Linked DNA regions of Homo sapiens. The protein of the gene in region 5 purifies or fractionates together with the protein of the main gene of each other region. This does not show direct contact. Each region holds a gene or a part of one and is shown on either strand. Other genes may lie near its edges. The genes, in order: ZNHIT6, TBC1D2B, C5orf34, APAF1 and RAD51B.

Region 1 (6,374 bases), on a different chromosome or scaffold from region 5:
TTCACTAAAATCCCTTTGACAACTACAAAGAGAGGATATTTATGTATAATATAGGAATATGCTAAATATACTACTTAAAGAGCAACTTTAAAATTTTCCTAAATCAAGGAATGAAATAGTTCACAAACATTAAAATGTTTTTTTTTTTTTTTTTTAATTTTTTTGTTGTTGTTGTTGAGACAGAGTCTTGCTCTGTCGCCCAGGCTGGAGTGCAGTGGCATGATCTTGGCTCACTGCAACCTCCGCCTCCTGCATTTAAGCTATTCTCATGCCTCAGCTTCCCAAGTAGCTGTGATTACAGGGGTGCGCCACTTCCCCCAGCTAATTTTTGTATTTTTAGTAGAGACGGGGTTTCACCATGTTGGCCAAGCTGGTCTCTAACTCCTGGCCAAAGGCAATCCATCCGCCTCGACCTCCCAAAGTGCTGGGATTATAGGTGTGAGCCGCTGCATCTGGCCAACATTAAAATGTTTAAATGACACTTGAAAATGTTTATAGGCTGGATGCGGTGGCTCACACTTGTAATTCCGACATTTTGGGAGGCAGAGAGGGGAGGATTGCTTGAGGCCAGGAGTTTGAGACCTGCCTGGGCAACATAGTGAGGCCTTGCCTCTACAAAACTAAACAAGATTAGCTGGGCGTGATGGCCTGAGCCTTTAGTCCCACCTACTTGGAGGCTGAGGTAGGAGGATCACCTGAGCCCAGGAGGTTGAAGCTGCAGTGAGCGGAGGTCCGCACCACTGCACTCCAGCGTGGGCAACAGAGCAAGATCCTGCCCCCACTCCCCTCCAAAAATAAAGAAAAAGAAAAGAACAAGTTTTAATATGAAACAGTAACACAAAAACTTTATGCAAATTAATTCCAATGAGTACACATATATACTTCTAAAATAATGTATTTTCTGAGTGATACACTATAATGTTAATAGTAGTAATCTTTGCATGGTAGAATTTTGGGTCATTTTTCACTTCCTTAACAACCACCCAGCTGAAGAAATAGGAAACTTTCAGCCGTCTAATTCTCCTCGGATCCCTCTCCTCAATACTTGCTTTGCTGCTAAAGAAACCATCATCAGGATTTCTATGTTAATAATTTCCCTTAGAGTTAGTTCTATCACCTTTGTAGGTATTCCCAAAAGTACACTATTTAGTTTTCTGGCTTTTTTCCCCCATATTTACAATCATGTTCTCTACATTCTTCCTTAACTTGCTTTTCTTATATTATTTCTGAGATTCATCCATGTTGATGTGCATAGCTGTAGTTCATTTTTAGTGATGTTTAGCATTTCATTGTATAAATACACCACAATTTAGTTATCCATTCTACTACTGACATTAAGTTAACAGTTTATTTTAAATACACAGCCTTCAAATTAAAACAAATCAGTGATTGAAAGATAGCAGTGATACCTTTTTTCTATGTACTCAGCTTGACTTTGAGGAAACTGGAGCTTCACATGCCAACAAAACTGTTGTTTTCTAAGAGAGAAAATAATCATGTGAGAATCAAGGTAGATAATAAAAGTCTGGATGCAAATTGAACTTTCTAAATTTTCACTTTAAGATAATTCCAAAATTATTCTTAGACTTTAACATATATTTTCTATTAAGAGCTAATTTCTCTTGCAAGGGTTATTAAGAAAGAAAAAAAAGGGAAGCAGTTCTAAATTCCAAGGACTTCACATTTCTGAATCAGAAAGCAATTTCTCATAGTTCAGGGGCTTTTGGGAGCAGTGTGCTACTATTTGAAGTTTACAAATAAATTTCCTCATGACTAAATACAATGAGCTGATGTCTTTGCTTGACTAGTCTGGAAATTAGGTGAATGAAGTATTGTCCGGTTGAGTCCAGCTGGCTGGAGATACACTTCTGAGGCATGAGTACGTGCATTCAGTAGCAAAACAGGAGACAACAAGCTGGTTGCTAAGCAGAATGCACTTTGAGCTACAGTCTTTTTGCTTTCAGGTCTAAACTTTGGTTTGACATAGCATCAACAGCAATAACTCACTAAATGTCTGATTTTAGAAAAATGACTATATTTAATATATCTAAATTTAGAGACATTGACATGATTCCTTCTTTAAAAATTCTAATGCTCAAAATATTGAATCCAATACAGAAATTTAAATGTCTTCACTACATGATGATTTTACACAATGTTTTCCTTACTTAGAAGAAATTTCTAACAATCCATTAGAGCAAGTTAATGACTACCGATATCTCCTTAAAATCTATCCCATAGCAGTAGGACCCCAAAATCTAAAATAATTTTCTTTTAATACAATCTATCTTTCACCAAACATCTATATGATTTAGTAGAATTTCTGTCAGAAGACAAAGAACATAATTTTATTGAGAACAAAGTTGAAAAGTACCCTTTACTAATCTAAAGGACAGATGTCTAAAATCTCAGAGGAAAAAACATTTAAAAATTTGAATGCAAAAGCAACAGTTACTAGTTTTAAATAAATAATTCTTCCAAAATAAAACATTTTGCAATATTCATTATCTGTGAAATAGGAATACCATAATAGCATTATCACAAGGCTGACTTTTTTTTTTTAATAAGAAATAAACAGATTTTGTTCATCTTTTTTTTTTTTTTTGAGACGGAGTTTCGCTCTGTTGCCCAGGCTAGAGTGCAGTGGCATGATCTCGGTTCACTGCAAGCTCCGCCTCCCGGATTCACACCATTCTCCTGCCTCTCTCCTGAATAGCTGGGACTACAGGTGCTCGCCACCACGCCCGGCTAATTTTTTTTTTTTTTTTTTGGTATTTTTAGTAGACACAGGGTTTCACTACGTTCGCCAGGATGGTCTCGATCTCCTGACCTCGTGATCCACCTGGCTCGGCCTCCCAAAGTGCTGGGATTACAGGCATGAGCCACCGCACCCGGCCTCATTTTGTTCATCTTAATGCATAATATAGTTTCTTCCTAAATGTATGTTTTTTCAGGTTAACTTAGGGAAAAAAAGGATTACCAACTTGCCATCTTATGGAATTGTAAACCATACTCAATCACCCCAATTCTTGCTTGAGTAATTTCAAAAACCATTCGCCTTTTAACATTTAATACACCCTGAATACATTCAGAAAGCACTTAACATTCCAAACACAGAGAGAAAAGCCCTCGGAAATCATTTTATTTGTTGTAGTTAACTAGCTCTACTTATAACAAAGTCATTCATTGCTATACATTGCCAAATTATTGATAAAAATATTTCTATATTTGGCCTCAGCTCACACATGAACAAATCTGAAAAGTACACTAACTTTTAAAATGTGATCTTCCAATATTTCAAAAACAAAGAAAAACAGAATAATGTAAAGAACACTCAATGCACCCATATTCAGATTTAACTCATTTACAAATTGCCGTATTTTTGAGGTACTTTTATTTCTTCTAAGAAATAAAGGGCTATTGATAACAGTAGATGATTCTTTATATGTACTTTAACCCAAGGTGGGCAAACAGAAGTTGAAGGGTGTTGTATAAAGAACTGCTGGGGATGGGCGCAGTGGCTAAAGCCTGTATAATCCCAGCAATTTGGGAGGCCAAGGTGGGCGCATCGTTTGAGCCCAGGAGTTTGAGATCAGCCTAGGCAACATGATGATACCCCATCTCTACAAAAAATACAAAAATGAGCCAGGCATGGTGGCGTATGCCTATAGTCCCAGCTACTCTGGAGGTTGAAGTGGGAGAATCACCTGAGCCCAGGAGATTAAGGCTGCAGTGAACTGCGACTGCGTCACTGCACTTCACCTGGGTGACACAATGAGACCCTGTTTCAAAAAAAAGAAAAAATTGCTAGGCCAGGCAAGGTGGCTCACGCCTCTAATCCCAGCACTTTGGGAGGCCAAGGTGGGCAGATCATGAGGTCAGGAGATCGAGACCATCCTGGCTCACATGGTGAAACCCCGTCTCTACTAAAAACACAAAAAATTAGTCAGGTGTGGTGGCATGTGCCTGTAGTCCCAGCTACTCGGGAGGCCGAGGCAGGAGAATCACATTGCTTGAACCCGGGAGGCGGAGCTTGCAGTGAGCTGAGATTGAGCCACTGCATTCCAGCCTGGGCGACAGAGCAAGATTCCGTCACAGAAAAAAAAAAAAAAAATTGCTGAAATGGGTGAGTTAATTTTCTCTAAAATGGTTTCCAATTCTTCAGTATTGCTGAAATTACTGTAAGTCCTGACATGTGTTCTTCTTAAGACTGAAAGAATTAAGCTTGTTTCTCATTTTTTTATAATTATATATACAAATATATGTCCCACTTAAAAAAATATACATACATCAAAATCCTAGCAACATTACTTGGATTACTTTCTAAAGCTAGATTCCAAGAAGTACAATCACTAAGACAGAGCAGGGTTTCTCAATCTCAGCAGTGCTGATATTTTGGACTAGATAATTCTTTGCAAAGGACTTGGTCCTTTGCACTGCAGGACGTTTAGCAGCATCCTAGGACTCCACCCTCTAGATGAGTGTTCCACTAGGAACACTCATACACCCAGTTGTGGCCACCAAAAATGCTCCCAGAAATTGCAAATGTCCCCTGGAAGCAGAATCATCACTGTTTGAGAACCACAAGGATAAAGGTTTGAACATTTACAATTACTCCTAATGCATTAGAGCTACTGTTCCCTAAATTCAACAAAATGCCTTCAACTACAATAATGTCACTATACCCTTGGCATATCAACGTTCTCAAAAATGGTATTACTATACCTAGTATATTCTAGGTAACTTAGGGACTCCAAGATACCATGTTTAGAGTTGGGTGATAAGACTGGTGGAGTAATTGTGGCAACTTAATCCTTATGTTCCCTTCTGGACAATCTGACAAAGCAACAGAAACACTAACCTCTTCTGAGTCCTATGAAACCCAAGTAACTATTCATGCATAGCAAAGCTGTTTCCCTCTCCTCCTCTAAATATCAATACACACATGCATTCTCAATGAGGGCAGCATGGCCCCAAAGAGGGCAAAAACTGGTTCTCTGAAGGGCCAACAAAATCTTGCTATTTTAATGCTTGTGGCCCTACAAAGGGCTACTGTATGCAACAGATATACAGTGTATCTATGGTATCAAAATATCACGGCAGAAAGCTCCTTGGGAGGCAATAATAAAAAAAAAGTTGAAAAATACTTAGATGGCACTTGTATTAAATGAGGAAAATAAATATTTTATACTCATTTTCAGTGAGTTAATACAGAGCACTTATTTACCAACACTTGCTTACTAGAAACTGTTAAGGATCAGTCTCTCCGTGGCCCATTTGTTTACAAAAATAGAAAGAAAAGGGATCATTCTCTCCCACAGTTTCAAGAAAGTATGTGGATGAACACACACATTTAAGGAAAGAGGTTCTATAACCATAATCTAAATTATTCTTTTGACTTCATAACTTCAAATTGCAAATTTTCGTATGGGGAATACTACCACAATCCCAAGGAAAAAGATGCAAATCAAAAGTCATTAGGTCCTTTTAAATGGCACTGCTCTAATGTCACAATAAGATGTTCAAATTCATTAATAACCAAAGAAATGTATATATAAATAAAATATTTTTCCTTTTCAGGTTTGTAGAAATGTTTTTTAAATTAGAAATACTAAGGAAGTGTGGCAAAAGTGTGGCAACTTCATTGCTGACAGGAATATAAATTGGTGCAAGCTACTGGTAGTTCAATTTCATAAAAGCTATAAATAAAAATTTGTAATTGAAAAACTGTATATTTTTGCCTCAATAGTTTTATTCCTGGAAATGTATCCCAAGGAAATAATTGGTCAAGTAATGATATATATATAAAATGTCCACTGCACCACTTTATATAATAGAAAAAAATTAGAAACAACCTAAATGTACATCATCAGAAAGTTGATTAAATAAATCATGGTACATCTACATAATGAATTTTAAGTAGTCATAAAAGATGAGGCAGAACTTTATGTACTGATGTAGAAAAATGTGCATGTTGAATGATAGCCTTTATATTTAAAACACAGGTTTATACATATATTGGCAAGTATGAAGGCCATACCCCAAACTTTTAGCTATGATTATTTCTTGACATTATAAAAGGACTTGACTTAATTTTTACCTACGAATATGTCTGTATTATTAAATAAATCTTCCACATAATGATTTGTGGGCTTTTTTTTCCTTTTTTGAGACAAGGTCTCACTCTGTCGCCTGGGCTGGAGTGCAGTGGCCAAAAAGGGTTTGCTGCAGCCCTGACTTTCTGGGCTCAAGTGATCCTCTCGCCTCAGCCCCTGCAAGTAGCTACCACAGCTGGCTGTATTTTTGAATTTTAGTAGAGACAAGCTCTTGCTATGTTGCCCAGGCTGGTCTCCAACTCCTGAGCTCAAGTGACC
Region 2 (6,374 bases), on a different chromosome or scaffold from region 5:
ATTTTCCTCCAGAGTGGACGGGGATGCTCCAGCTAAGGTCACACAGCCAGTAGGTGGCAGATCCTGTGTTCTTCCTCCTTGCTTTGTCCAGGATGGGTGGGAGGGGGTCTTTTCAGCCAGTTATGCCTTGCTCCTTTGAGGCTCCCTTAATCCTCCAGTGGACAGACAAAATGAGAGATACAGTGTAGAAGCAGGAGAGTAGAGTCAGGAGTCCTGGTGCTGAAAGGCCTCCCCTGTCCTTGGGAGTTCTGGGGGACTAGACTGTCACCTCCTAGGGGCCCACCTGCTTTGAGCATCTGGAGGGATCTGGGCCCAGGCCTGGAGCTGGGTATCCTTTTTCCAGGCTTTGCTCCCTGCCTGGTTTCTGTGAGTCTCCACCCTCACTCTCACTCCTCTTCCGTATTCCAGGTTGGGCTTTCTCCAGAGCAACAGGGTTGGGCTGGGATGTATGAAAGTGCTCTCAAAGCTGGCCACACGGAGAGCAGACTAGGCAAACTCCTGGCCTTGTGAGCTGAGGACTGTTCCTCAGACCCCCAGAGCTGCTAACAGCTGGAGCTGCTCCCTGGAGATGTTCTTAGAGCTTTGCTGACTCAGCTTTTGCCAGTTCAAGCAGGATCTGATTCCCATGTTCTCTTGGGCTCCCCTGTCCTGTCTGTAAGTGGGTGCAGACAGCCTGTTTCCCCAAAGAAAACCAACTCGGGTTGCAGTCCTACACAGGCTTACTTAGAGAGTGCCTGTATAAACTTGGTAATGACCCTAGTGGGAGACCTTTGCCAAAGGCAGAGGCTCTTCCTCAGTGTACATACGGGCTGTCCCTGTGTCGGACGAATTTCCTGTGGGATGTTTGTTAAAGAAAATAGAGCATCGTGTTTCACATTTTTCCCAGATGACTGTAGAACTCTATCAGTTTTTTTCATTAAAATAATCTGAATCTCCTGTAATCCCAGCACTTTGGGAGGCCGAGACGGGTGGATCACGAGGTCAGGAGCTCGAGACCATCCTGGCTAACACGGTGACACCCCATGTCTATTAAATATACAAAAAATTAGCCAGGCATGGTGGCGGGTGCCTGTAGTCCCAGTTATTCGGGAGGCTGAGGCAGGAGAATGGCGTGAACCCGGGAGGAAGAGCTTGCAGTGAGCAGAGATCGCGCCACTGCACTCAGCCTGGGTGACAGAGTGAGACTCCATCTCAAAAAAAATTAAAAAAAAAATAATAAATAAGAATCTACATAAGCAGGGTTACAAGGCGCATTGTCAGAAGTGTGGCTTTAAACTTCGATGGACTTGAACTTGAAGCAGGAGTCTGCTGCTCACACATATTGGACAAATTACACCAGTTCCCTGCTCCAGTTTCCTCTTTGGTCTAGTGGGAATCATACCTTCCTCATTAGGTGGCTGTGAGGATTCTGGAGAATGTTATGGAAAATGGCTGGCGCATTTTCCATAGTGGTATGGAAAATAGTAGGCACTACATGGCATATGAAACATCAAGCAGTGTCTTTGGCCAAATATGTAGTGTATTCATATAGTGGAATATTATGCAGTAGTAAACAAAGGTACTAGAGCTATAGGTGTCAACGTGGATTACTCTCACAAACAATAAAATTGAACAAGAAGTAAGTTACACACTGATTGTGTTCAGAATGATACCACTTATAGAAAGGTTAGGAAGATCATGTGAAACAGTACTACAGATCATAAGGATGTATGCTCTTTCGCGAGGGGAAGAGCTTTATGGGGCTGATGAGCTCTGGTTTCCAGGTAGTGGTTGCCTGTGATGGGAAGAGGGAGGATGTGATTGGGAATGGGTGCCTCAGGGCTTCTCCTGTTTTGCAGTGTTTTATTTCTTGGACTGGGTCATAGGTATATCAGTGTTTGTCCTATTATGCTATCCATCTTTTTGTAGGTTCAGAATATTTCTTTTTTTAAAGAAAGGAAATACATTTTCCTTTGGGTTACTGACAATGGAGGAATATTTTGACATGTAAAATTAAATTGGTCACAGAATAAGATAGTACCGAGTGTTGGCTGTATACAACAATGGGAATGGAAATCAGGCAAGGCTTTCTGGAAGAAGGGAGGAGAAGGCCGGGCGTGGTGGCTCATGCCTGTAATCCCAGCACTTTGGGAGGCCGAGGCGAGTGGATCACTTGAGGTCAGGAGTTCGAGACCAGCCTGGCCAATATGGTGAAACCCCATCTCTACTAAAAATACAAAAATTGGCTGGGCATGGTGGCGCACGCTGTAGTCCCAGCTGCTCGCGAGGCTGAGGCAGGAGAATTGCATGAACCCGGGAGGCGGAGGTTGCAGTGAGCCGAGATCACACCACTGCACTCCAGCCTGAGCGACAGAGTGAGACTCCACCTTAAAAACAAACAAACAAACAAACAAACAAGCAAAAAACACCCCGACTCTAAAACCCTGCTCCCTTTTTTTTTTTGAAACAGAGTCTTGCTGTGTCGCCCAGGCTGGAGTGCAGTGGCACAGTCTCTGCTAACTGCAACCTCTGGCTCCCGGGTTCAAGCAATTCTCCTGCCTCAGCCTTCCGAGCTGAGGGACTATAGGCGCGTGCCACCGCTCCCAGCTAATTTTTGTATTTTTAGTAGAGACGGGGTTTCACCATATTGGCCAGGCTGGTCTCGAACTCCTGACCTCGTGATCCACCTGCCTCTGCCTCTCAAAGTGCTGGGGTTACAGATATGAGCCACCGCACCCAGCCAGGCGTGTGTTTTAAGAAAATTAAATTTCATTGTACAGTTATTTCTTTTGAGCTGTAGGAGTAAAATCTTTATGGTGTAAGTATGGAAATTACCAATTTATCTTCCTTTTCGTCTTTCAAATGCAAGAACTGATTCCCTTAAGCCTTAATGTTTCACTTTAGGGCTGCCCAGCCATAGAGGAGACCCTGATTTCTAAGGATTTTAAGTTAGGATTTAGCCCTGCTCAGACTTCAGCTAGTGGTATATAATTTTACAAATACCATTTCTTATCACAGAGGGTTAAAAAGTAAAGAAAAATCAGCACTTTTCTTATTCTATTATCATATGTTTTTCTTATTTAAAAGTGTCTTTCAGCTCTCTCTGGAGAAGCTGTGGTTTTGTTGGGCTTTTTCAAAATGTTTTTCTATGTAAGTCTTAATGAAAGCTGATATAGGAATTTCTTGGGAAACTCCTCTATTCCCAAACTTAGGGATTTGATCTGGTGCCTTATGAGGTAATAGAGGCTAGAGAGGGGATGTGATTTTGCCAACATCATGAAGCTAGACTCAGACCCTCTCTGAAAGTAGAGGCTCCAGGAATAGTGAATGTCTAAAATGTGTAGTATCTAATTGTATTGTCTGTTCTGACAAGTCTGCTTTTTTTTGACTTTGTTGGGGATCGGATAAGGCGTAGTAGTAGTCTTTCCTTCTATTGCATTTAATATCTGTCCTTTTTGGATAGTGGGTATCACAAGGGAACATTTTACTGCCCAGTTCTTTACCAGGATGCCTAGTACCTTTTGCTGGACATGTCTGGAAACTGCTGCAAGGGTCTAGCAGAGGCTGATGCTTCCTGTGTGCGTCTCTCTCTGTGTGTAGGGGTGCTGGAGGCTTCTCACAGAGCTTTACTGGAATCTGAGGCACTTAGGGGAAGGAGAGCATGTGACTGACCGAGGGTGAAGCTTAAACAGCCTTGATCTTCCAGATCTCTGCAGACTTTGGAGCAAGAGAGCGTCATCAGACCGTCAGCAAATGAATTCCTCCCTCCGTAGGTGCTTGGTGCTAAATAGACATGTGTACTGGTTTCTGAGCCACACGTAACTGAATAGCTGTGTACCCCTATTCTTAACCACTTTTGTGGGAATGCACATTCCCTGGTGTTGAAATTTCTCTTAATGACAAACATTTGTCGGCTTGGGTAATCATATTGTTTTCAGTGCAAAATAGATGTGGTGAACCAGCCTCCTTTGCTGTTTGGTTCTTCTAAGCTGTTCTGCCCTAGGGCATCTGCTCAGTCTTGAAGCATTATTTAACTCTTTAAGTTATGGGAATTTAACTTTTCATGGCTTTCCAATTAGTAAGTTCCTTCAAGGCAAGTCCAGTATTGTGCTTGTGATATCACAGTGGCATTCCGTCTCCCTCTCCCACTGCCTCACACAGTCCTCATTGCAGGGGAGTCTCCATCCTATTTCCTGCTAACCAGAGGGTAAGCTCCCTAAGGACTGTGTGTATCCTCAGCTCCTGCAACAGTATCTGGCACAAAGGAGACATGCTATAAACTAGTGTTTGTGTTCCTGAAAAATTCGTATGTTGAAGTGCCAGCTCCCAGTGTGATGATATTTAGAGGTGGGGCCTTTGGGAGGTAATTAACTCATGAGGGTGGAGCCTTCACGAATGGGATTAGTGCCTTTATAAAAAGAGACCCTGGAGAGATGATCTCCCCTTCCACCTATGAGGATACAGCAAAAAGGCATTCCTTTGCAAACCAGGAAGAGGGCCCCCGCCAGGAACCAAATTGACCAGCACCTTGATTTTGGACATTCCAGCCTTCAGAACTGAGTAAATTTCTGTTGTTTAAGCCACTTAGTCTGTGGTGTTTTTGTTATAACAGCCTGAACCGACTAAGGTAAGGTGCCCAGGTAGACATTTGTTGCATGAATGAATAGAAAATGGTCACCCAGTAAGCACTGGTTTTGGTGTGAGCCCTGACCCTTTAGAAGTGATCAGCCAGAACTCCCAAATATACAGGTGTATTACATGCCATTCTTGCCTCATGTCATGGAGGTGGCAGCCATTCAGTGAATGCCCACTGAATTTAACAGACATCAGGAATCCAAAAGGGGGTTATGACTCACCCTTCCCCAGAGGAGAGAGCTTACAGTCAGTTCCATATTTTCGGGTCTCATATATTTCATGCCCATGGTCAGGACTCCAAGGACACTGTTATAGCAGAGGCAAACTTTTTATGTAAAGGGCCACATACTATTTTAGGTTTTGCGCACTCTGCCATATCTGTCACTATGCTGTTGTAGTACAGAAACAACCACAGAATGAGTATAGCTGTGTTTTAACTTTTAGTTATGGACTCTGAAATTTGGATTTCATATAATTTTCACATTTCGCAAAATATTCTTTTGATTTTTTTCAACCATTTAAAAATGTTAGCTGGGCACAGTGGCTCACTCCTGTAATCCCAGCACTTTGGGAGGCCGAAATGGGAGGATCACTTGATACCAATAGTTCGAGACCAGCCTAGGCAACAAAGTGAGACCCTATCCCTACAAAAATTAAAAAAAACTAGCCAGGTGTGGCTGGATGTGGTGGCTCACGCCTGTAATCCCAGCACTTTGGGAAGCCGAGGTGGGTGGATCACTTGAGGTCAGGAGTTTGAGACCAGCCTGACCAGCATGGTGAGACCCTGTCTCTACTAAAAATACAAAATTAGCTGGGTGTGGTGGCGGATGCCTGTAATCCCAGCTGCTTGGGAGGCTGAGGCAGGAGAATTGCTTGAACCCAGGAAACAGAGGTTGCAGCAAGCTGAGGTGGCGCCATTGCACTCCAGCCTGGGCGACAAGAGCGAAACTCTGTCTCAAAACAAAAAACAAACTAGCCAGGCATGATGGCACATGTCTTTAGTCCCAGCTACTTGGGAGGCTGAGGCAGGAGGACTGCTTGATCCCAGGAGGTGGACATTGCAGTGAGCTGTGTTTGCTCCACTGTACTCCAGCCTGGGTGACAGAGGGAGACCCTGTTTCAAAAAAATAAAATAGCAAAATAAAAATGTTAAAACTGCCCTTGCCTTGTAGATTGTACAGAAATAGGCAGAGACTGGAAATGACCGCAGGCTGTAGTTCACTGACTTGTGTTCTAGGAAGGCCTCAGGAGCTTCCCACTCATTCACTCACTGTGTGTGCTTAGGCACTGGGGATATGACTGGACAAGACAAACAGTCCCTGTCCTCCTGGAGCTTTCAGTAGGTGGGGGGGACAGACGTTAATAAAATATAACAAACACCAACCAGTGCTAGGAAGTTTGAAAGGAAAGATATGCAATGCATGTATAGTTCAGGATCTTGATCTGGTTTATGGTTGGTGGAGGGCTAGGAAAGACTTTCCTGAAGAAGCGACATTTGAGCTGAGACTCAAAGGATGAGTTGGTGTTGACTGGAGCGGGGGTGGGGGTGGAGAGGAGGAAGTCAAGTGTTGTAGGGAGAGGAAATGGCATAAGCAGAGGCCCTTAGGTGGGGGTGCTGGTTGCATGTGGGACTCAAGGAGTGCCTGGTGGCAACTAGGAGTGAAGGGGACATAGCCTTTGGAAGAGGCAGGCCTTGGGCCAGGGCAGGATTTTGGTCTTCATCTTAAGAGCTAGAGTCAGTAAAGAGTTTTAAGCAGGGT
Region 3 (5,344 bases), on a different chromosome or scaffold from region 5:
ACTGAAAAATACTTGGAGTAAAGGGACCAAATAGCAAGTGAACAAATGCACAATTCTGCATATTAAAAAAAAAGAGGCTGGGTGCAGTGGCTCACACCTGTAATTCCAGCATTTTGGGAAACGGAGGCAGGAGGATAGCTTGAAGCCAGGAGTTCAAGACCAGCCTGGGCAAGATAGGGAGATTCCTGTCTCTACAAAAAAAATTTTTAAAAATTAGCCAGGCATGGTGGTACATGTCTGTGGTTCCAGCTACTCAGAAGGCTGAGGTGGGAAGATCCCTTGAGCCCACAAGTTCAAGGCTGCAGTGAGCTATGATTGCACCACTGCATTGCAGCCTGGGTGACAAAGCAAGACCGTATCTCAAACAGTAAAAACAAACAAAATGAAAAAACCTGAAGATTAATAGTGAATGCTCCACAAGATAAAAACAGCAACAACTTTATAATGTTACAAATTTTTTTTCTTGTTAATCTGAAATAAGAATTAAATGTGAAACGTTCAAAACTTCGAAATATTTATTATTAAGATATAAATACATATTTTAAAAATGTACAAGTTAAAAATACCTTCAAAGTTAAATGTCAGTTCTTTCACAATCATTGTGCCGGGGTAATACGTACAATATCTTGGCTTACTAGTAATTTTATACCAGTCACTTGAAACAACATCCTTAAACTTTAATAATATGTTGTAATAATTCCATTTTTCACTTTTTAGAGTTTGATAGAAGACAGTCAATATCGTGAAGGATTTCAGAGGTTTTTTTCAATGCTATTGATACTCTATTTTCATTAACTTCTCCTAGCAAGGTTTCTGAAGATCCTGGTTTATAATGATCAAAAGACTGTTGTTCATTTTTCTTGTTAGAAATCTGGTTTAGGATACCACTATTTTCTAGTAGCACTAAGTTGCTTAGTTAAGGAGGTTTTCCCCACATTTTTCACTATATAAATATCTTTATATACAGAAAGCATAGGCTTCATATTAAAATATTTCTCAGCTGGAAGACCTCTTGGATTCATAATACAGTTGGAACTGCAAGGCTTATCAAGTCTGCTCCTTGTAGATGAAGAAACTAATTACAGTATAAGGGAGGGGGAAAGAGAATAGAGTGTGTATGTGTGTGTTTGGGTGGAGGTTTGGTGGTAAGGAGGAAATGAAAATTTCAGTAACATTTCTTTAAGTGAAGAAATGACACGGGAATTAAAGAGTAGGATGACAGGATTATAAGGAATCTGTGTAGTGTCTATTTTTAATTTAAAAAGATTTAGAGTGAAAAACCTGTTCGCTATAGAACTAACTTATTTGAATAAGATTAGAGAAAAACCACAAGAGAAAACAAATTTAGATGAATTGGGTGAGAATGTACAGAATGAAATATTTCATTTAAAAAAAGAGGTCTTAAACAGTTATAATTTTATTATATAATTATGTAAGTGAAAAAGTCTCCAAAGGAGACCTTAACCCTAATTAACTGTTCTTTGCCCAATTTAAACTCAAAGAAAAGTATAAATGTTAACATGCTATACCTTCTATGGACAAGATCCATCTTAAATTACAATCTTAGGTATTTGCTGACTCAATAAAGGTTAGCAATATATTAAGTATAGATTAATATTCACAAAGTACTGAAGTCATGAATTAAGCCTAGAATGAAAGAGAGTAATTATGTAGGACAGTGCATTCTGTTTAAAGGATACAGTTAAACTTCTGTATCTTTTCAAGTTCAGAAGCAACAGACCTGTCCAAGGAAAAAGAAAAAATTCATTCAGTTGTCTGATTCTTTTGTATTCATGATATTTCAAATAAGCATACCTGACTTTTTTTTTCATTAGAATTTTAAACGGAAGAACGCAGAAGAATTCTCTTTATGTTACCTTTATTTAGCAACAAATCAACTTGACTCAACTGATACTTACTGAGTGCCTTTAAAGGTAAGTGAATAAAAGTCTACCCCTTGTAAATCCACTTCAAGGAATTTGTAATCAAATATTGATGTTTGAGGATAATGGGCCTTCCTGTTACTTCTTAGTACTAACCTAGCTTACACTCTACTTTCCTCCCTAAAGTTTACGCAAACTTTACAAACCTATTAAAATCCCATTCCTTCTGTGAAAGAACTGCTCTCTCCTTCCTTGAATTCCTATAGCATATTAATTAATCACATACTTATTTGTAATATCTTCTCTTGAACTATTTAACTTCCTGCTCTTCCTACCTAGATTGTTTCTCTCAGAAGAAAGGATTTTTTACTTTTCTGTACTTGTGCATATATTAAGACCTCATTTATATGGAACTCTTTGGGAATGGATGGTATGGGAGATCCAAGTTTTTAAATAGTTGAATTACGTGTCAAAACAACTATTTTTTATTAAATTCTTTCTGGAATAGACTACCTACTTATTTCATTGTTTTTTTAAGCACAGAGGGTTAACATGATGAACATTAGCTCTTATACCATGTTCTATAGAAAGATAGTGGGACAACTGGTATGGAGTAGAGGGCTAATATATACGTCTCCAGCAGAACCCCTAAGTGTGTGTTCTTTATCCTTTTTCTTATCAAGTTAGAATGAAATATGAGCAATGGCATACAACTACAAACTGTAACTTGACTAGCTCTCTGCAAAATTAATGAAGACATTAGTCTAAAATATTCAAGTCACCAGAAAAATCTTCACAGTTCGTAGTAGGTTGTGTGACTTGTCTGCTTTATTGGCTTTACTACAACAGATCACATGCACCTCCCTGTCAGCTTGTACTCTTTCCCTTGTACTCCAGCCTATGGATGGAGAATGAAAAGAAATATTTCATAATTTTAAACACCTGTGGCAAAGAACTTGGATACAACTTACCCCAACAACCAGCTGATTGTTCATTATTGCAAAATATCTTTTTTTTTTTAAACCCAACGCATTTTTCTGGATGTAAGAAACAATACAACCTTTATTGTTATTGCTCTCATAATGAACGAACTTTTTATGAAACGTACTATTTGTTGACTAAAAAGTTGAATTAATAAGCTAATAATGGAGGGTGTGGCGGAAAAAAAATACTAGAATACAACTTAGGTAGCTTTTTATTGTACAATCTTGTTTCTTCCTTCAACCTACCCTCTTTGATAAGAAAAACCGAAGTGGAGATACCTAAGGCTTTATAGGGGGAATGGAGCTACTCCTCAATTTCTTTATCTTGCCTCTGCTGTTCCTAGTTGCTTTCACCTTTAGCTACTATCACCAATCTCTACTTGCAGTTTTTAGTGTGTATTGACAGCCTCTTCTCAGCTTTCAAATAAAAAGGCTGATGATATTTTACAAACTGCCAGCTAAGCAATGGTGAAGTGATGGTTTTATAGACAAGTACAATTTTCCTTCCATCACAATTGTTTTTTGCTAGTTACTTTAGCAACTTTTCTGCTTCCAAACAGGCTACAGCTAAAGGATGAGGGATCTGCAAAGCTGGATCCTTAAGCTACCTGAGATATTCAAATAACGCTTACTGATATGATTTGATTTGTTCTAAGAAAGGGCTTAGGAAAAGGTAACAAAAATTGGCTTAATGTTTACATTTTGTTTCACTACACTATGTTAGGTCACCTCACAAAACTTACTTAAAAAGCTTCCCAAATTGTTCCTGGTATCCCTGTCTTCCCATATATTCAGGTTAGACTCTCAGTGACACTAATCTTCTAATGACCTTTCTTCCTATCATTTTTCCATTTAGGACTTTCTAATTCCATCAGGTCTGAACTCCTATTTATTATAAGATCCATTCCTAGCCCTCAAAACTCATACTATATACTAATAGATAGCATATGTTCCATAAAAACTATCTTCTATCTCCACAGGCTAAAATATCCTTTTTACTTCTGCCCTTATTTCCTCCCTAAAATGTCTTATATTTTCACAGAAAGTTCCCTTGAAGCCCAGTTCTAGTACCCTGCACACTGAAAAGCACACAGGAGGGACTAAAATACTTGCTTTATTTGATCTGCCAGTTAATTTGGGAGAAGTAACTAATATGACAGAAATTATTTAAAAATCAATGTTTTCTGAAAGCTTATGTTATTAAACCTTTTATTTCCTTCAACATTACTAAAAATTTAAGAATCCCCTTTAAATTTTTCCATAAAGTTTTCAGGATGAATTTGTCACATAAAAAGAGCCACTCATTTTCATGTTAAGTTTTCAATGCAAGGTTTTCTTACCTTTAGGTAAAATAGAATATGATGAAATGTAATAAATTAGATGTCTGATTAGAAATTATTTTCAAGCTTAAGCTATCAAAAATACTTTAGGAGTTAAACATATTCAAAACTAAGAAAGTTTTTTTGGGGAAAAAAGTCTCAGTTTACCATTTGACATTTTAATTTTTTTTAAAGTATTAGCTCTTCTAAACAGATTTAAGTTTAAAAGAAAAATACCAATTTTCTTGGAGAACAGAAGATGACGAATGAGTGGGCATCTCTCTGGGACTAGTCTGGGTCAGTCTCCTGCACCATGATGTTACTGTTGTCACATATCTAAAGTGAATACATTAAAAGAAATACTTGAAAAATGAACTTGAATACATTATAAAATTATAAACAAATGTAAAAATAAGACAATTTGGGAAAAAAGGATAAAGAAAAAATGTTAAAGTGAAGCATTTACTGGGCAATTCTCAAAATATTTTTCACTGGTCATAGAAAAGCCAAATTTTTTCCATTATTCATCAAGAATAAAATGATTTACTTATATTTGTGATTAATACAAGTGACATTTAAGAATCAAAATAAAGGCGATATTTGGATTTCATTTAAAGTTCAATTTTAAATGTTCTAATTCTTTTAGTTTTTCAAAGTAAAATGCGTTTAAGTTTTATCAAAAAATATTCACACAAAATAAGACTGACTGAGCATTTGCTTACTAAAATTTAAACCAAAAAACACCTGCTAATGCATATACACATATGCTTGTATGCATATGTGTAATTATATGTAACTTACTACATATCTAAAACAAGTATCAAGTTTAATAAAATGAATGATCTGAAATGATTGGCTGAATCAATAGAAATGTTTGCTAAAGAAACTATCTTTTTTGAGGCAAATCATTAATAGCAATGAATGAGCACTTAGACTGAAACACAATAAAACCCAACAGAAAAATACATTCAAGAGGTAACAAAAAGCTATTATTTTGTGAATATTCTCAAGTGAAATCACTAAAATGTGAAGACTATCACAAGATTTACTGTAATAAATTAGATAAACCAAAAGAAAAAAAATTCATAAAAAGCTGAAGACTCTTCCCCATTTTAAGATAATCATTGCGTAATTTTATCCACTTTATAGAAATATACAG
Region 4 (6,374 bases), on a different chromosome or scaffold from region 5:
CACAAAGAAATCTTGGAAAGGACAGAAACAAATAGGAACACAGCCTATGAAGAAAGCATCCATGATTAAAAACCAACATACGAATACAGTAATGTAAAATGTCACTACTGTATTTAAAGATACGTCAATTCTTTACTATTTCCCTACAAATAAGAAAAAATTAAAGCATTGAAATTTCAAAAGACAACTGGGTTACTTAAAACTGTATAGACATAAATAGTTAAAAACTATATATATATATATATATATATATATATATATTTTTTTTTTTTTTTTTTTTTTTTTTTTTTTTTTTTGAGACGGCATCTCACTCTGTCACCCAGGATGGAGAGCAGTGGTGCAATCTTGGCTCGCTGCAACCTCTGCCTCCCATGTTCAAGCGATTCTTATGCCTCAGCCACCTGGGTAGCTGGGATTACAGGCATGCGCCACCACGCCCAGCAAATTTTTGTATTTTTAGTAGAGACGGGGTTTCACCATGTTGGCCAGGCTGGTCTCAAACTCCTGACCTCAAATGATCTGTCCACCTCGGCCTCCCAGAGTGCTGGGATTACAGGCACGAGCCACCACACCCAGCTAAAAGTTAACAACTTAATATTCTTTAATTTATGCCAATCACCACCCAAAGAAAACATTTCCATAGGAACCACAATTTTAATCAAATTTAGATCTCTTATATTATCTGTACTTTTAAAAGAAAAGGTTTTGCAATACAATTAAATGTCAAAAATCCAATGTTCCTGTATTTGAGAATGGAAGTGAACTCCAGAGATTAAAATTTATCTTTGGGAAAGCACCTATTCTTGAATTAGTGGACATACAAAGGCAGACTCCAGAGAATAAAGAACTAAATATGAATAATAAGACTGTAATAGGACTACTTGAACAAAACTCAGGAAACACAAGTTAGAAGACAAAAAAAAAAACTGATTAGTTTGACTACATCAGAGTTCTCGTCTACTGAGAACACCCAGGAAAAAAATTAATCAGATGGCAAATTAAAATAAGGTATTTAAAAGTCTAAAACCAGCTGAGCACAGTGGCTCACGCCTGTAATACCAGCACTTTGGGAGGCGAGGCAGGGGGATCACCTGAGGTCGGGAGTTCGAGACCAGCCTGACCAACATGGAGAAACCCCGTCTCTACTAAAAATACAAAATTAGCCAGGCGTGGTGGTGGGTGCCTGTAATCCCAGCTACTCAGAAGGCTGAGGCAGGACAATCGCTTGAACCTGGGAAGCAGAGATTGTGGTGAGCCAAGATCGCGCCATGGCACTCCAGCCTGGGCAACAAGAGCGAAACTCCGTCTCAAAAAAAATAAAATAAAATAAAATAAAAGTCTAAAACCAACAAAGTTTAATGTCTAGAATATATAAGAAACTCCTAAAAAGCAAAAAGAAAAAAAAATTGGAAACCCCAATGGAAAATAGACAAATAATATAAACAAAATCCATAAAAAAAGAAACCCAAAAGGCTAACAACAAGCTTATGAAGAAATGTTCAAACTTGAGTTACCAGAGAAATGCAAAGTAAAAGACACAACTTTATAGAAGTTTGCCTGGCAAAAATTACAAAGCTGGATCATACCAACCGTCACTGCACAAGTAGAATTATCGGAGTCCCCATACTCATCTGGGGGAAATGTACAGACTGGAGGGGAATCAAATTTGGTATTTGTATATCCTATCATTTAGTAATTTTGGCTGGACATGGTGACTTTCATCTGTAACCCCAGCACTTTGGGAGGCCAAGGCGGGAGCATCACTTGAGCCCAGGAGTTTGAGACCAGCCTGGACAAGATAGCAAAAACCTGTCTCTACAAAAAAATGTTTAAAAACACACCAAGCATGGTGGCTTACACCTGCAATTCCAGCACTTTGGGAGGCCAAGGTGGGTGAATTGCTTGAGCTCAGGAGTTCGAGACCAACCTCGGTAACATGACAAAACCCCAACTCTACAAAAAATACAAAAATTAGCTGGGTGTGTCAGCATGCACCTGTGGTCCCAGCTACTCCGGAGGCTGAGGTGGGAAGATCACTTGAGCCCAGAAGGCAGAGGTTGCAGGGAGCCAAGATTGTGCCACTGCACTCCAGCCTGGGTGACAAAGCAAGACCCTGTTTCATAAATAAATAATTAGCCAGGCATGGTGGCGTGTGCACCCAGCTCCTCAGGAGGCTAAGGTGGGAGGATCACTTGAGCCTAAAAGTTTGAGGCTGCAGTGAGCTATGATATGGCCACTGCACTCAGCCTGGGCAACAGGGTGACACTCTGTCTCTTTAAAAAAAAACAAAAATAAATAAATAATTACTAATTTTGCTCCTAGCTACAAATACCCAAGAAATTCTTACTCACATAGAAGTTCAACCCAGCTTTGCTGCAGCAGCAGAGAGTTGGATACAATCTACATATCCATTTACTTAGGGTAATGAGCAGTAAAATGGGTTGGTGGCAATCAGGTGTAACAAATAACATGTATACATAGCAACAAGGATAAATCTTAAAAACATTGTGTCATGGGAGATAAAAAACAGAATAATACCATAACATCTATGCAAATTTAAAATACCTGCATACCAACAACATACATATTTTACAAGAGTACACACTTTACACAGACATTTACAAAGAACATACATTAAATACATTAGGATTGTCCATGGAGAGGGGAAAGGAAATAAGAATAGGAAATTTTGAAATGGAAATAAATAAATACAGTGAAAAGCTCAGCCTAGTACAGATCTACTATAATAAGCCGTGAACTAAGGAATATGAATAACTCAGTCCTCTGAACTTGAGATCCCACAAAAGTACGAGGAATATGAATTAAGCTCACATGTACAGTTGCCAGTATCTCTAGGATTTTCTCAAAACAAAGTAGTTAAAACCTGTTCCAAGATAACAATTTATACAATATGACTCCTGAATATTTAATTCCATAGATTGTTAGTCAATTTTAATCCCTAGAATTGAAAATTCATCACAATAATGTAGAGCAATTTAAATGGGGAGAGGGAGTGTTCTTTTAAACCTATAAATTGGAATATTATAAATACACAAAGAAAGTTCATAATATTGAAAGGAAAACTCATTCCTTCACACTAAAGGAACTTAAGCTAAATTTATCCTGAAATATCCTTAGTGATCAACTTTGCAGTAGGGGCTTAAAAAAATCCTTGGCTCTGAGACTTGAAAGGAGCTAAGTCTCAGGAAACTTCTCTGTAATGATAGAGGGGAAAAACCAAGGGTTAGGAATCAGGCATACTTCTGACAAGAGTATAGTCTATACCACTTACAAAGGCTATGAAATTAAACTGAGGCCATGTGTACACATAGATATACCCTAGCCTCCATATTTCTAAGTCTCTTAGAGGCTTACTACTTATTCCAATCATTCTGTCTAAACTGTCTTAACCGTAGATCATGTTATACATACATATCAAAAAAAAAAAAACAAAAAACTTTTTTTTGAGATGGAGTCTTGCTCTTGTTGACCAGGCTGGAGTGCAGTGGTGCGATCTCAGCTCACTGCAACCTCCGCCTCCTAGGTTCAAGTGATTCTCCTGCCTCAGCCTCCCGAGTAGCTGGGATTACAGGTGCTCACCACCACACCCAGCTGATTTTTTTTGTATTTTTGGTAGAGACGGGATTTCACCATGTTGCCCAGGCTGGTCTTGAACTCCTGACCTCAGGTGATCCACGCCTCAGCTGGGATTACAAGCATGAGCCACCGTGCCTGGCCTACTAAAAAAAAAATTATTAACTACTAGAAGTTGGGAACTGTCTTTGAATTCCCCTAGAAGTGTCATACAGAGAGAACACACTGATGAATGAGAACACACTGATGAATGGGGGCAGCCTAGAACTGATGGAGCTATACAACTATTCCTGATGAATACCCTGAGAACCTACCAGGATCGCTAAGGTCAGTGGTATACCTGCCAACATTTCTTAAACCCTCTTCTACCCAGTATGCCCTTCCCCACCCCAGTAACCACCCACTACCTTTCCCACCTTCCCTAGTCTCCCATCCCTACCTTCACTGCCTAGCTAACTTTTATTCTTTCTCCAAACTCCTGCTAAGATGTCATCTCATTCAGGAAGCTTGTCCTATCCATCCCCTCCCTTCAGAGAGTTAACATATCCTTCCTTTGTTCTAACTCTGTACCTTATACTTGTTTCTACCATTCAATTTATCACGTATTGATATATCATAATATTTTTACATGTCTATCTACCTTACTAGACTATGAAATGGACTAAGACACTTACCTTCTAAAAGGGAATGATCTCTAACAGCTTCTGCAGCTAATACAGACTTCCCACAGCCTGCCATTCCATGTATGGTGACCCATCCTGGTTCACCTTTCAATTTGGAGAGCTTCTGCTGAATTGCATTCACCAGCTTCTTCCTTGTGACAAAAACAACTGGCCTCTGTGGTACTCCACCTTCACACAGGACTGTCCTTACTAAAATCCAAAACAAAACAAGCATGAATGAATAGAACTTTGGAATAATTACTGAAGTAATACCATAAAAAACAAAGAGCAAAGCTGAGGCTTAGCCTGAAAATTTCCAAGAGAAGTTAAGAAAATGTGGCTAGCATATTAACTTCAATTTTCTGATTTCTCAGACAACAGAGAGCAAAGACAAACATATATCCTTCAAGATGACTAAAGAAAATGGAAGTTTCTATCTATATCTGCTTTACTCACCCAATTATTTCCTGACTTTTCATTCCCTCTCATATTGAAGACTGGGAAGGCAAGTGTAAAAGGAAGAACATTTATGGAATACCTTTCAAGAACATATATTTCTAAAGATTCTTATTTTTTCCTATAAACTCTATAAACACATAGAACTGGAAAATAAACAAGGGCCTATAAATTGTCTTATTGTCTCTAAAAATTAGGGTAGACATATTATTATCTCAGCAGTACAGTTCACTGGGCAAGAAGAAAAGTTGAGAGTTAATGTGGATGCAAATAAAAAATATTTAAATTGAAAACATCACTACAATTTTTTTAACATGCAGTTTTCAGTGAACTGGTCACACTCTCTTCAAAAGATTACATCTACAATAAGACAAACCCAAAGCAATTTTGATAGCAAAGTGATAGAAGGTATAATGGATACAAACCATACGAAGTTATTCCACTAACTGAATCTTTACCACTGGAAGAAGAGACAACAGGAATGCCATCATGGAGAAGGGCAGCAAGATCTTTATATCCTTCATGTAGTAGAGCATTGTAGAATGATACGTAGGAATCATTATCTTTTTTAAGTATCATTTTAATCAGCATAGCTGCTCTTTGCTGTTGAGTGGGCTAAAAAAAATTAAGTAGTTTAGTATACAACAATGAATATGTATGCAACATAAAGTAGTGGAGACCAGTACAAGTTCTGAAATTCTAAAAATTTTTAAGGAAGTGTGGACTGCTTCAGAGAGCTTTACCTCATTTCTTACTTTTTCCTCTTCTGATATTGTTAAAAATCCATCACTAATCATGTGATCCATGATGTAGGATGTCTTGATGTCCTTTTCCAGAGCTTCTCTATGTTGAAGCAAACAATTTCGAGCTTTTGCATCCATCTTCCCTCAGATCTTTCTCTCTCTGAGCTGTCAACCATGAGCTACAGCCAAAACACCAAAATATTTGTCAGGCCAATAAAAATATGAAAAGATACATAATCTCACTAATAAACAAGAAACGTAAAAAGAACAAAACTGATTTTTTTTCCTTGGCAAAAATTTTTAAATGGACAAAACCCAGTGCTTGGAAAGGTATGAGAAAATGGCCATTCTTATGCACTAATTGGGGAAACTAGAAAATGAATGCAATTTTTCTGGAAAGCAGTAAGATATGGAATTGTTTAAAATAAGCTTTCTCTCTAACCCAGAAATCCCATTTCTAAGGATTTACTTCAAGGAGACATTCAAATACATATGTAAAAATATCCACAAGGAGAATTAATGAGTTTCCAATCAGGTGTGGTAGCTCAAGCCTATAATCCCAGCACATTGGGAGGCTAGAGTAAAAAATAAAAAGAAAAAAGAATTAATGGAGGATGTTTCAGTGATGAACGCAACCTAAATGTCCATCATTCTGAATATAGATTTTAAAAATTAGGGTATGTATATAAAATGGAATATTATGCAGCCATTCAAAATTATGACACATATCTCCATGTATTGACATGGAAAGATGTTCATAATACTGTTGCTGAAAAAAAAAAAAAAAAAAAACAGAAACATGATCCCACATACAACACATAACGTGGGGGCCGGGCGCAGTGGCTCATGCCTGTAATCCCAGCACTTTGGGAGGCCGAGGCGGGTGGATCACGAGGTCAGGAATTCAAGACCAGCCTGG
Region 5 (7,171 bases):
GACTCTAAACAAACAAACAAAAAAAGGATAAAATCCTAAGATAAAACCTTAAATCTAGCCAGGCACAGTGGTGTGTGCCTGTAATCCCAGCTAGCTGGGAGTTGAGGCTGGAGGATTGCTTAAGGCCAGGAGTTCAAGATCAGCTGGGGCAGCATGAGAACCTAGTCTCAAAAACAACAAAGAACAAAAACAACCAACCAAAACCTTTAAATCTTATTTACCCTGCTAAGGAGGATTTGCTTCACCACCTTGCTTAAAAATGCAAGATCCGCTCTATATATTTCTCATGCTCCATCAATAAGAAAATGGTCTATTAATTTCTTTTGCTTTTAAGAGAAATGATACATGTTGAATAGTATCTCCTCATTTGAGTCCTATTTCTCATGTAACTATAAAACAGTAAAGCTGTTACTTCACCTTATGCCGTGACCACTTTCCCCTCAAAATGCAAAAATACTAAATTTGGGTAAATGAAATAGCAGTTGGAAATGCACCCAAGGAGGCTTGATATTTACAATTAGCCTATGGAAAAGCACCATCATTTATCTTTTTTTTGTAAGCCTACATTTTCATATTTCAAGTTTAAGAGGTATTAAGGTATAAAGTTAACTTGTGCATAAAACTTATCAATAAAAATGTTAAATAAAATTTACCTGACAGGTAAGGATCTGATGTCTACTCAGACGGTCACACAGCTCTTGTGATAAACCCACTCGTTTTAGTTTCTTGCTACCCATGCCTCCAGATCCAGCAAAGAAAAGAAGAACCATGAAAAAAACAACAGAATATAACATAAGTGATAGTGAATAGGCTATCCAAAACAAAATTAAAAATTCCTCAAGTTTCTCCATATGCAAAATGAAACATATTGTGTTAAAAATATTACTGATAAAGGAATGCTATAGAACCTTTTTAAATGTTTTAAATAGGAGGGACAATTGTTCGTCAAACAGGCACATAGAAAATCTACAAGGCAACCTCAAATATAATTTCACACAATTAATTGATATTTACTACATGAATATAGTACCACTTCACATTTGTAGAGCATCTTAAAATGTTCAATGCATGTATAAATTTTATTTGGAAATGTAATTAACTTTCAAGGCATATTTCCAAACAGAACTACTAGAAAGTCTATTGCACTGTAACAATTTACATTGCACTGTAACGGCAATAGGTATATTTATGGAGCACCTACCACATACCAGGCACTGTTCCAAAACTTATCTAAATTATCACATTTAATCTTCTCAATAGCCCTAGAAGGAAAGTAGATTATTGGCCCCTTTTTTACATATGAGAAAACTAAAGCCTGGAAAAGTTAGCTAGTCCATTGTCACCAGAAAACATAAATAACTGATCCAGAATTTGAATCCAGGCAGTCTAATTCTGAAACCTATCCTCTTAACCATTACACTCTACTGCAAGTCCATAATCATATTTAACTCTTCCTTTTTCTAGGAGTCAGAGCACACCTTCTGAATCAAATGAGATTTTATCACTGCAGTATTAAAATGTTCTTTTTAAATATATATATAGAGAGAGAGAGAGAGAGCGAGACAGGTCTGGCTCTGTCACCCCAGCTGGAGTGCAGTGGCTCGATCTCAGCTCACTGCAACCTCCCCCTCCTGGGCTCAAGCAATCCTCCTACCTCAGCCTCCCAAGTAGCTGGGACCACAAGCGTGCACCACCATGTCTGGCTAATTTTTGTATTTTTTGTAGAGACAGGGTCGACACCATGCCTGCCCAATTTTTGTATTTTTTGTAGAGACAGGGTTTTGCCATGTTGCCCAAGCTGGTCTCGAACTCCTGGGCTCAAGTGATCCTCTCGCCTTGACCTCCTAAAGTGCTGGGATTACAGGCATGAGCGATCAGACCTGGCCCAAAATGTTCTTTATTACACTAGCTGCTTATATTCTCACATGCAGTTAAATTTCACTATTGTACCTTGCTAGGGGTAAATGAGGCTCATGAAAGATTTATCTTCACAGAGCTAAAAAAGAATTACTGTGAGTCTCTTAATGCATACAAAGGAGAAGCTGTATATCTCATTGAGATGGTAAAGAAGTATCCTCTGGAACGAACTGAAACAGGAACTCTTCATGGATCCAAGGAATAAAGCAATATAGTTATCAGAAAAGAAGTAACATTTTGGAATGAAAATATATGTATACTGAGAATGTATATATTTGTTTATTTCCAATACCATGGCCCAAATTTCTATTTAACACCTAAATTCTCTGAATCAGACTGAATCAATCTCTCTCTCTCACACACACACACACGCACACACAATATACATACATACACACCTCTCACAAACAAAAATACATCCTCCTCATTTCTCTCCATGGGAATTTGTTAGCAATGACTTGTTTCCCCCAGTAGAAAACCAAGTGATACCTGCTATAATATTGCCTAGTGTCTTTTCAGATCAGGTAGTTTCAAGTAATGACACCATTTAGACTGATAAATTCAATTTAAAAAAAAAAAGAAGGAGAAAGAAAAGAACCATAGGCCACACAAGGTAGCTCACGCCTACAATCCCAGCACTTTGGGAGGCTAAGGCAGGCAAATTGCTTGAGCCCAGGAGTTTGAGACCAGCCTGGGCAACATAGAGAGAACCTGTCTCCACAAAAAAATACAAAAATTAGCTGGGCATTGTGCCGCACACCTGTAGTAGTCCTAGCTACCCAGGAGGCTGAGATGAGAGGATCACCTGAGCCCAGGAGGTCGAGCCTGCAGTGAGCTGTGGTCATGCCACTGCACTCTAGCCTGGGGAACAGACTGAGACCCTATCAAAAACAAAAAACAAACAAACAAAAAACTATAAATTCTAAACTACAAGGACTTTAACAACAACCAATTCTGCCATTTCTGCCTTAATAGGGCCACTCCCATCACTTGCCTGGACTATTGCATATTGTTTCTGGCCACTCCATTCATTTGTTCCTTAATTTACTCCTTCCACAGGCATTTAAATACACACCCTGCTGAGGTCTGGGGTACAAGAATCATTTAAGCATATTCCCTCCCCTTTGAATACTCATAGTTGAGATGAAAAGAGAGGTACACACAAATAACTACAGCCATGCAGTAAGCATTACAATTGCTATTTAAAAGTGCTATGGAAGCAGACAGGAAGAAGCCCCAAATTCGCCTGCAAAAGTCAGATCAGTGTCACAATCCTGCCTTGAGTAGCTTCCTAAAAAGTCACGATTATCCTTTAACACTTCCCATGGGACTGGTAGACCACAGGATAAATTCCAAACTTCTTAGGGTCGCAGAGAAAAACATCAAAAATTGGTCCCTCACTTCCTTCTCACTCATACATCACATTGCAACGTTCAGTTCCTATCCTTCCTGGCAGTTACTTCACCTCTCAGTGTCTTAATTTCCTTAAAACCCTTGTTTTACAGTCATATGAATTTACTACTTCATATGACTGTAGTGGAGGTTAAAGGACTCGGGGAGTGCGTGGCACATAGTACTTAAGGTCAGCAATCATCATTTAATGACTCTCACATGATCTGCCCTCCAGCCACATGGTATGTGTATTGGTAGGTCACGCATCCTGTCTCCCTGACTTCCCTCCACAAAACCTTCCCCAGAGTCAAGTCTTTTCCTCTCCAATGTTCTCATCAACTTCGCACATATCTATTCGATAATCTTATCAAAATACTATTATGGCTTGCAAGTTTGTTTGCCCCCACCGGAGCACGTAAATTCCTGCGGTGTATGTGTGCGCGAAAGCACGTATGTGTATTGCACATGAGGGGAGACGGTCAACCCTGGAGAATGAACCCTGTCCTCCTTACCACCAAGAAAAGAAAATTCTTCATGTTAGATGTTCAACAACTGTTTAGGAACAATATTAGCTAATATTTATTGAGCCCTTATTACGTGCCACACTGTTCCAAAGGCTTCGGATATTTTACCTCACTTTACAGATAAGGATACTGAGGTAACTAGTTGAGAAACTTGGGCAAAGTTAAACAGCTGACAATTGGTGTGAAGCTCGCATTCGAATCCAGGGACCGGACTCCAGATTCCACGCTCTCCAACACCACCTGAAGTGGGAGAGTCCCTCAACTTCCCCTAATGACAGGCTGCCCGAAGCGGGAAGGGGCTGGGGAGGAAGATGGGCAGCAACAGGCGGAAACATCACCCAGAATCCCCTAAAAAGAGCTTTTTCCAACAATGAGCAGCTTCCAAGCATTCCCCACCAAAAGAAGGCCCGAAGCTCCCCCAATTCACAGCGGGGTTCTTAGTGACGATCCCGAGTCTTAAGGGGGCGTGACCAGCACCCAAGAGAAAATCTCCGCTCCCCCAATATCGAAACCCACGAGCCTAGGGAAGGAGCAGGAAATAATGAGCGAACCCCACTTCCCCACAACGGCACCCCACATGAAACTTTCCAGTACCGGGTCTGCAGCATCCAACTTTCAAGTTTCCCCACCCTTTACACAGTTTCCCCGCGGAAAACGCCGCAAAGCAACAACCGAAGCACTGATTGAGTCGTCATTCTGGCTACTGTATCCAATCAGAGGCCGGCAGAGGCCCAGGTTGGCTCCGCGGCTTGCTGGGAATTGTAGTTAATACTATGATCAGCCTAACAGATCGAATCTGAAGCAGTTTCTCAATATAGTGATTATCAAAATCTGTTGCAGGACCATCACCAAAGAGAATGTGAAACAAGGGAACACCCTGTTTGGAAATTTTTCTTTTTTCTTTCTTTTTTTTTTTTTTTGAGACGGGGTCTCGCTCTGTCGCCCAGGCTGGAGTGCAGTGGCGCGATCTCGGCTCACTGCAAGCTCCGCCTCCTGGGTTCACGCCATTCTCCTGCCTCAACCTCCCTAGTAGCTGGGACTACAGGCTCCCACCACCACGCCCGGCTAATTTTTTTGTATTTTTAGTAGAGACGGGGTTTCACCGTGTTAGCCAGGATGGTCTCGATTTCCTGACCTCGTGATCCGCCCGCTTCGGCCTCCCAAAGCGCTGGGATTACAGGCGTGATCCACCGCTCTCGGCCCTGGAAATCTTTTTTTTCGTGTATCATCACTTTTCACAATGGCTTAAAGGGGCCAGACGCAGTGGCTCACGCCCGTAATTTCAGCACTTTGGGAGACCGAGGCGGGAGGATCACTTGAGCCTGGGAGTTCGAGACTAGCCTTGGCAACATAGTGAGACACCCTCCCCCACCCCTCCGCCTCTACAAAAAAATACAAAAAATAGGCTGGGCGCGGTGGCTCATGCCTGTAATCCCAGCACTTTTGAAACTGCCCGATGGGTTCACCTTACCAGCTGCCTAGACAGAACCGATTTATCAGGACAGGGGAATTGCAATGCAGAAAGAGTAATTCACGCAGAGCCAGCTGTGCGGAAGACTGAAGTTTTATTGTTACTTAAATCAGTTGTCCCGAGCATTTGCGGATCGGAGTTTTTACCAATAATTTGGCTGGTAGGGGCTTAGGAAGTGGGGAGTGCTGATTGGTCAGGTTGGAGATGGAATCATAAGGGGTCGAAGTGAGGTTTTCTTAATGTCTTCTGTTCCTGGGTGTGATGGCAAAACTGGTTGCGCCAAATTACTGGTCTGAGTGGTGTCAGCTGATCCATGGAGTGCAGGGTCTACAAAATATCTCAAGCACTGATCTTAGGGCTTGCAATAGTGATGTCACCCCCGGGAGCAATTTGGGGAGGTTCAGACTCTTGGAGCCAGAGGCTGCATGACCTCTAAACTGTAATTTCTAAACTTGTAGCTAATTTGTTAGTCCTGCAAAGGCAGACTGGTCCCCAGGCAAGAAGTGGGTCTTTTCGGAAAGGGCTGTTATCAATTTTGTTTCAGAGTCAAACCATGAACTGAATTCCTCCCCAAAGTTAGTTCAGCCTACGCCCAGGAATGAACAAGGACAGCTTAACGGTTAGAAGCAAGATAGAGTCGGTTAGGTCTGATTTCTTTCACTGTCATAATTTCCTCAGTTATAATTTTGCAAAGGCGGTTTCACTTCGGAATGCTGAGGCAGGCAGATCACTTGAGCTCAGGATTTCGAAACCAGCCTGGCCAACATGGCGAAACCCCGCCTCTACTAAACATACAAAAATTAGCCAGACATGGTGGCAGGCACCTGTGATCCCAGCTACTTGGGAGGCTGAGGTGAGAGGAGCCAGACATTGCCTCAAAAAAAAAAAAAACCTTAATGGGCCAGAAAGCCATGTTACTTTTCTCAGGAATCGAGGACAATCCACCAATCACAGAAGAGTTTTTGGAAGAAAACGTTTTGTTTGTTTTAACTTGCTCTTTTCACCACCCTTTGGTGATTAAATAGTTTGGGAAATGCTGAATGAAATTACTAAACCTGAAACACACATAGTGAGGAAAGCTGAGAGTCTGTGATTAAAGCACACCAGGGAAACCAAACAAAAGGCTTGGTGTAAGGCAGCTGTGGTGAGCAAACCTAGTAAGCCGTTACTTCAAGAGTTGGTTTCAGGCTGGGAACGGTGGCTCACGCCCGTAATCCCAGAACTTTGGGAGGCCGAGGTGGGCGGATTGCCTGAGGTCAGGAGTTCGAGACCAGCCTGGCCAACATGGTGAACCCCTGTCTCTATTAAAAATACAAAAATTAGCCGGGTGTGGTGGCGCGCGCCTGTAAATCCCAGCTACTCAGTGAGGCTGAGGCAGAAGAATCGCTTATCCCAGCTACACAGTGAGGCTGAGGCAGGAGAATCGCTTAAACCCGGGAGACGGAGGTTGCAGCGAGCCGAGATCGCGCCATTGCACTCCAGCCTGGGAGACAGAGCGAGACTCTGTCTCAAAACAAAAGACTTGGTTTCAGATTATTGTGTTTGCGAAAAAGCCTTTGCTCATTCTTTGCTCTCTGATCTCTTATGCATACTTCTGTCTTATAATTTAGCCCACCGTCTCCTAATTTTTGGCCTGCATCTCCCTTGAGAAGAAGGACCTCCATTTACTCAACTTAGAGAATAGGGCCTAAGCCCGGTGTAGTGGCGCGCGCCTCTAGTCCCAGCTACTACAGGAAGGCTGAGGCTTAAGGATTACTTGATCCAGGAAGTTCGAGGCTGCCATGAGCCGAGATCACACCACCGCACTCCAGCGACAGAGAGACTCTGTCTCTAAAAAAATAAAATAAAGCCTAGCACACCGTTCAAT

Evidence for each region.
Region 1: the proteins of RAD51B (region 5) and ZNHIT6 purify together in Homo sapiens (affinity purification with mass spectrometry; one large-scale study listed by BioGRID and IntAct). This does not show direct contact.
Region 2: the proteins of RAD51B (region 5) and TBC1D2B purify together in Homo sapiens (affinity purification with mass spectrometry; one large-scale study listed by BioGRID and IntAct). This does not show direct contact.
Region 3: the proteins of RAD51B (region 5) and C5orf34 purify together in Homo sapiens (affinity purification with mass spectrometry; one large-scale study listed by BioGRID and IntAct). This does not show direct contact.
Region 4: the proteins of RAD51B (region 5) and APAF1 purify together in Homo sapiens (affinity purification with mass spectrometry; one large-scale study listed by BioGRID and IntAct). This does not show direct contact.

What each region holds. Positions count from the first base shown.
Region 1 is NC_000001.11:85,679,427-85,685,800, forward strand, and holds part of ZNHIT6 (box C/D snoRNA protein 1), read right to left. Parts: intron 1,479-6,374; coding exon 1,410-1,478; intron 23-1,409; exon of another isoform or gene 1-22. UniProt on the Homo sapiens protein: Required for box C/D snoRNAs accumulation involved in snoRNA processing, snoRNA transport to the nucleolus and ribosome biogenesis.
Region 2 is NC_000015.10:78,070,037-78,076,410, reverse strand, and holds part of TBC1D2B (TBC1 domain family member 2B), read left to right. Parts: intron 1-6,374. UniProt on the Homo sapiens protein: GTPase-activating protein that plays a role in the early steps of endocytosis.
Region 3 is NC_000005.10:43,486,209-43,491,552, forward strand, and holds the end of C5orf34 (uncharacterized protein C5orf34), read right to left. Parts: intron 4,522-5,344; coding exon 4,423-4,521; intron 2,782-4,422; coding exon of another isoform or gene 2,751-2,781; exon of another isoform or gene 1,742-2,750; coding exon 1,701-1,741; exon of another isoform or gene 904-1,700; coding exon 707-903; 3' UTR 501-706; downstream 1-500.
Region 4 is NC_000012.12:98,647,579-98,653,952, reverse strand, and holds part of APAF1 (apoptotic protease-activating factor 1), read right to left. Parts: intron 5,635-6,374; 5' UTR 5,594-5,634; coding exon 5,456-5,593; intron 5,328-5,455; coding exon 5,138-5,327; intron 4,467-5,137; coding exon 4,269-4,466; intron 1-4,268. UniProt on the Homo sapiens protein: Oligomeric Apaf-1 mediates the cytochrome c-dependent autocatalytic activation of pro-caspase-9 (Apaf-3), leading to the activation of caspase-3 and apoptosis. This activation requires ATP. Isoform 6 is less effective in inducing apoptosis.
Region 5 is NC_000014.9:67,817,110-67,824,280, reverse strand, and holds the start of RAD51B (DNA repair protein RAD51 homolog 2), read right to left. Parts: upstream 4,503-7,171; 5' UTR 4,428-4,502; intron 741-4,427; exon of another isoform or gene 740-740; 5' UTR 738-739; coding exon 654-737; intron 1-653. UniProt on the Homo sapiens protein: Involved in the homologous recombination repair (HRR) pathway of double-stranded DNA breaks arising during DNA replication or induced by DNA-damaging agents. May promote the assembly of presynaptic RAD51 nucleoprotein filaments.